2 separate regions of the Homo sapiens genome follow, and region 1 is linked to region 2. Evidence: fine-mapped expression QTL. A gene starts in region 2. The other region holds a variant in brackets. All regions are shown on one strand. Distances are between the middles of the regions. Region 1 overlaps TMPRSS9 (transmembrane serine protease 9). Region 2 holds the start of ZNF77 (zinc finger protein 77).

The links. PIP is the estimated chance that this variant, and not a neighbour inherited with it, causes the effect. A credible set is the group of variants that fine-mapping cannot tell apart.
Region 1: its variant is the best candidate, but not a certain one, in a credible set for the expression of ZNF77 in lymphoblastoid cells (GTEx, PIP 0.85).

Annotation. Positions count from the first base shown.
Region 1 is chr19:2,371,711-2,374,611 of GRCh38, forward strand. All of the region lies in intron 1 of TMPRSS9 (transmembrane serine protease 9), which reads left to right. Among named protein-coding and RNA genes, the nearest start is that of TMPRSS9, 13 kb to the left of the region's middle. The variant C/T (reference allele first, on the strand shown) is at 1,414.
Region 2 is chr19:2,943,686-2,946,586 of GRCh38, forward strand. ZNF77 (zinc finger protein 77) reads right to left here and starts at 1,286. Exons shown (of 4, transcript NM_021217.3): 1 at 1,153-1,286. The coding sequence starts at 1,155. RefSeq lists silencers at 982-1,061, 1,202-1,451 and an enhancer at 1,522-1,681.

The sequences.
Region 1 (2,901 bases), 570 kb before region 2:
AAGAAAAAAAAAAAACAAAACTAGAATAGCCTTGAGCAAACCAGGGCCAGGACAACTGGTCACCCCAAAGCAAACTGACTCACTGGGTGACAGGGACTCTCACCCCATCACCACCGCGTTGGGATGAGTCGGACTTCCTGCCTCCCGCCTGGGCCAGAGGATGCCGAGAGAGTGGCGTCTGTTGGGCTGGAGGCTGGTCGAGCCACAGGCTCAATTTGGAGACATCAATGCTGATGGTTCATGATTTTGGTGCGATCTCGGCTCACTGCAACCTCCGTCTCCCGGGTTCAAGCTGGGATTATAGGCGCCCGCCACCATGCCCGGCTAAATTTTATATTTTTAGTAGATGGGGGCCAGGCTGGTCTCAAACTCTTGACCTCAAGTGATCCGCCTGCCTTGACCTCCCAAAGTCTGGGATTACAGGCGTGAGCCACTGTGCCTGGCCCCTTCTTTTTTCTTCCCTGTATCTTGGTGCGCAGTTCAGATCTGAGATCCCACGTCCATTCTTCTCGAAGCTTTTTCCTGTCACGCAGGCGGGCGAGTCTCCTCCTACTGATCTCTTTGGTTTTACAGCTACACACTTTTCTTTTTGGTTTGCCTGGGGGCATTCTCACATATCTCTCAAACCCGGCCAGTAACACCCTCCTACGTTGCTTTAAAAAAAAAATAAATGATGCCTCTTCTTGTCAAGGGCTTCCTCCCACCTCAAGGTCACCTGTCAACCTCCATGCCCACTCTTGTTTCTCGAAATGGGCTATCTTCCCTCCTTCTACCTGTGTATTTCATTCTCTCCCACCCCCAGTCTTTGGAAAAAAAGATAATAAAACTCTAGAAGATATTTTTACTCTGAGATTAGCAGTGTGAAGGACCTTCCAGAACCTTCTCTCTCTGCCTTTCTCTGAATTAAAACGCTCGCTTGTCTGAGACCGGCTGTCTCCATTGCATCTGAGTGATAAGAGAAAGATTCATTGAAACAGGCAGGTTTTATTTTTGGTCTGTCCAGCACTAAATGATTTTCTTTTGGCTGACTTATTTTTTTTTAACTCTAAACAGACTTTGCAGCTTAGTAAGAATTTATTTCAATTTAGAAATATGGGTGTTCTAAACTTTTTTTAAATTAAAAAAATTTATTTTTTCCTGAGACAAAGTCTTGCTCTATCACCCATGCTGGAGTGCAGTGGCACAATCATAGTTCACTTCAGCCTTGACCTCGTGGGGACAAGTGATCTTCCTGCCTCAGCCTCCAAAGTAGCTGGAACCACAGGCGTGCACCACCACCCCTGGCTAATTATTTTTATTTTTTGTGGAGATGGGGGTCTCGCCATGTTGCTCAGGCTGGTCTCAACCCCTGGCCTCAAGTGATCCTCCCTCCTTGGCCTCCCAAGGTGCTGGGATTACAGGCATGAGCCACTG[C/T]GCCCAGCCAGAAACTTGGGTTTAAAATGGACTTTGCATTATAATGAGATGGGTAATTCACCCAGGATGAATCCAGCCTTCAGCTTTTGCTTTCTTTTTTTATTTTTATATATTTATTGATTTTTGAGACACAGTCTCACTCTGTCGCCCAGGCCGGAGTGCAATGGAGCAATCTGGGCTCACTTCAACCTCTGCCTCCCGGGTTCAAGTGATTCTCATGCCTCAGCCTCCCAAGTAGCTGGGATTACAGGCACGCCACCACACTTGGCTAATTTTTTGTATTTTTAGTAGAGATAGGGTTTTGTGATGTTGGCCAGGCTGGTCTCAAACGCCTGGCCTCAAGGGATCCTCCCACTTTGGCCTCCCAAAGTGCTGGGATTACAGGCGTGTACCACCATGCCCAGCTAATTTTTGCATTTTTAGTAGAGACGGGGTTTCGCCGTGTTGGCCAGGGTGGTCTCGAACTCCTGACCTCAGGTGATCCACCCACCTCGGCCTCCCAAAGTGCTGGGATTACAGGCATGCACCACCATGCCCAGCTAATATTCGTATTTTTAGTAGAGACGGGGTTTCGCCATGTTGGCCAGGCTGGTCTCGAACTCCTGGCCTCAAGCGATCCACCCGCCTCAGCCTCTTAAGGCGCTGGGATTACAGGCATGAGCCACAGTGCCCGGCCAACTTTTGCTTTCTTTGCCGTACACGTGGCCTAGGGAGGTTGCAGCTTGGAGGTTTTCAGCCAACTTTTTGCGAAACTAATACACACCATGCTGATTTATTCTTTAGGAAACTTGTCAGCTTTTCACTGAAGCAACAAATGCTTTTGTCTGTACCAACTATTTGCAAAGTGCTTTACAGGGAGATCTGAGCAAGGCAGAGAGGTAAAGAAGGCTCGTGTCTATCCTTGAGGAGTTGAGAGGAGTCTAGAAGTTTCTGTACATTGGGCAAATCTGGGCAGTGCTTTATAACATTTTCCCGAGCTACAGAGCTCTGACCCCTCCGCGGCTTCACTGCTTTTCAAGCTATTACATCAGCACCAAAGATTCCTTTTTCTTGTATTCACGGTGACAAGGAGAGGCTCAAAGTCCTGCCTGTCCATTAATTTCATGCTGATTTCTCTCAACAATCTTTTTTTTTTTTTTTTTTTTTTTTTTTTTTTTTTTTTAAAGAGGTAGGGCGCGGTGGCTCACGCCTGTAATCCCCGCACTTTGGGAGGCCGAGGCCGGTGGATCACCTGAGGTCAGGAGTTCGAGACCACCCTGACCAATATGGTGAAACCCCGTCTCTACTAAAAAATACAAAAATTAGCTGGGTGTGGTGGTGGGCGCCTGTAGTCCCAGCTACTTGGGAGACTGAGGCTAGAGGATTGCTTGAACCTGGGAGGCGGAGGTTGCAGTGAGCCGAGATCGCGCCACTGCACTCCAGCCTGGAGACAGAGCGAGACTCCGTCTCAAAAAAAGAAAAAAAAGAAAACAAAAACACCCCTCAAAA
Region 2 (2,901 bases):
GCCAGGATTTTTTTTTTTTTTTTTTTTTTTGGTTTTTGTTTTTGAGACGGAGTCTTTCTCTGTCGCCAGGCTGGAGTGCAGCGGCGCCATGTCGGCTCACTGCAAGCTCCACCTCCCAGGTTCACGCCATTCTCCTGTCTCAGCCTCCCTGGTAGCTGGGATTGCAGGCGCCCGCCACCACGCCGGGCTAATTTTTGTATTTTTAGTAGAGACGGGATTTCGCCATGTTGTCCAGGCTGGTCTGGAACTCCTGACCTCAGGTGATCCGCCCGCCTCGGCCTCCCAAAGTGCTGGGATTACAGGCGTGAGCCACCGCGCCCGGCCCAGGATTTTATTATTTGACAGGCTCCAGGACAGGGCACCACCTCCTCCTTGGCAGACCTTCCCAAACTGACCACCAAGCCCCTGACGGCTCCTGCCCTCTCCTCCCACTCTCCCCGATCCCCTGACTGCCTCTACTGTCCCCCAACACATCCCTCGAGCCCGACTCCCTTTACTGTCCCCCCAAACTTCCCTCAAGCCCCTGATCGCCTCTACTGCCCCCCTTAAAGTGCCCCTGAGCCCCTGACTGCTTCTGCTGTCCCCTCGAGCTGCCCCCAAACTCCCGACTGCAGCTACTGTCCCCCTAAACTGCCTTCGAGCCCCTGATCACCTGTCCCCCAAAACTGCCCCTTCAAACCCATGACCGCCTCTACGGCCCCCTCAAACTGTCCCCGAGTTCCTGACCGCTGCTATTGGCCCCCTAATCTGCCCTTGAGCCTGACTCCCTTCCACTGAACCCCCAAACTGCCGCCGAGCCCCTGACCGTGTCTGTTCCCGCAAACTGCCCCTGTGCCCCTTAAACCTCTACTGTCCACTTAAATTGCCTCAAGCCCCTGACCACCTCTGCTGTCCCCACAAGCTCTCCCCAAACTCCTGACCTGTACTGTCCCCAGAAACTACCCCTCGAGCCCCTGACCGCTTTTGCTGTCACCCCAGACTGCCCCCAGCCCTACCCCTCGGCCGCTGTGACCACGTCCCCGGGGCCCAGGCGCTCGTCGTGCGCCGCCCCGCGCGTCCCTCAGCTTTCTCCGGCTGCGAACTCGGGCGGAAGCCGGTTCCTGCCGCCCCACCTCGCCCTGGGCCCGGGCTCGGCTCCCGCCCGGCACTCACCATGTCCCGCCCGCTCCTGGGCTCTCCAGGGTTAGCGCCCCGCGGTCCAGCGACCGGCGCAGGTGAGCACGACAGGACACCTGAGCCGCTCGGGGTAGGCGGGGAAGCGCGCAAGGCAGAGGGGAACTCGGCTTACCGTCCTCGGGGTCTGATTGGACAGATCTCGGGAAGTGGAGACTCTGATTGGACAGTGCTGTCGACTCCGCACCCCTGATTGGAGAATTCTCCAGTCCGTCCCCCTAGCGCCCTTGATTGGGCAGGGCTCCGCTTCGGATTAACGTCTCTGATTGGACAGTTCCCTAGGCCCCGCCCCTGCCTGTCCTGATTGGATAATTCTCTCCTCAGTGACGGGCTCGTCGAGAACACGCGTGGCTGACCCTCTAGCCGGGCAGCCGCGGATCTGGGAGAACTCACTCCAGTCCAGGGAGGGCGCGGCGTCCTCCTCCCTGACTGCACGGCAACTCCAGACTCAGTTTCCCCTCGGAGCGGCCCCTCGTGCGGGGAGGAGAGGAAGGGCACGGAGTCCCATGGGGCGGAGTCCTGCGTGGGGGCGGGACCCGCGTGCGTGACGTCACCGTGCTGTCCCGCGTGGGCGCGGACGCCTGGGGTCCAGAGACCTGGAGATCTGGAGACCAGACGACGAGGCCCCAGGAGGCCGGACCCCACCAGGCGCTCCCTGTGTTCTTAAAACTCTCGGCCGGGCGCGGTGGTTCACGCCGGTAATCCCAGCACCGTGAGAGGCGGAGACCGGCGGATCATCAGAGGTCAGGAGTTCAAGTCCAGCCTGACCAAAATGGCGAAAACCACTTCTCTCCTAAAAATACAAAAATTAGCTGGGCACGGTGGCGGGCGCCTGTAATCCCAGCTACTCCGGAGGCTGAGGCAGGAGAATCGCTTGAACCCAGGAGGCGGAGATTGCAGTGAGCCAAGATCAGGACACTGCACTCCAGCCTGGGCAACAAGAGCGAAACTGAGTCTCAAAAAAAAAAAAAGCAGCCCTCCCACAAACAGAACCACGTAAGGTCATGAAGAGAGAGGTCTCACATTTATATGCTTAATAACGAAAAAGACTCTACAAAAACCACAGGCTTAAACAAAAAATACTTTTACAGGGACACTCAGACTGGTGTGACCCTTGTTACTGATCTTTGTAGACAAGGATAATTATTTCTGAAAAATGATGTAATCCTCATTTAAAATTTTTTTTTTCCTTTATAAACCTTTGTCCCAGTCTGGGCAACATGGCAAAACCCCATATATACAAAAAATACAAAAATTAGCTGGGAATAAAGGAGTGTGCGCCTATGGTCCCAACGACTTGATAGGCTGAAGCAGGAGGATCGCTCGAGCCCGTGGGGATTGAGGCTGCAGTGAGCTGTGATCTCACCATTGTACTCCAGCCTGGGCAACAGAGACCCCCGTCTCAAAAAAATGAAAACCAAAAACAACCTTTGTCTTCCTTTACCTCCCTGAATAAGCACATAGTTTGCTATGCCGCGCATATTCCCACTGCAATGAACTGTTACCACCGTTTTTAGACAGCCTGTTATTTAGGTCGACACAGTAAAAACATGAATTACGACAATTATGTTTGTATGTAAAATGGCAAGCGATATAGAGTTTATACTTCTACTCTGTCTCAAGCTGGAAAGTCTTTTCGGAGATGAGCAGTCGCGTTCCAGGCTTTAGGAATTGCGGCTCAACTGAATAAAAGTATTCAGAATTTTCACGTCGAGTTCAAATTTATTT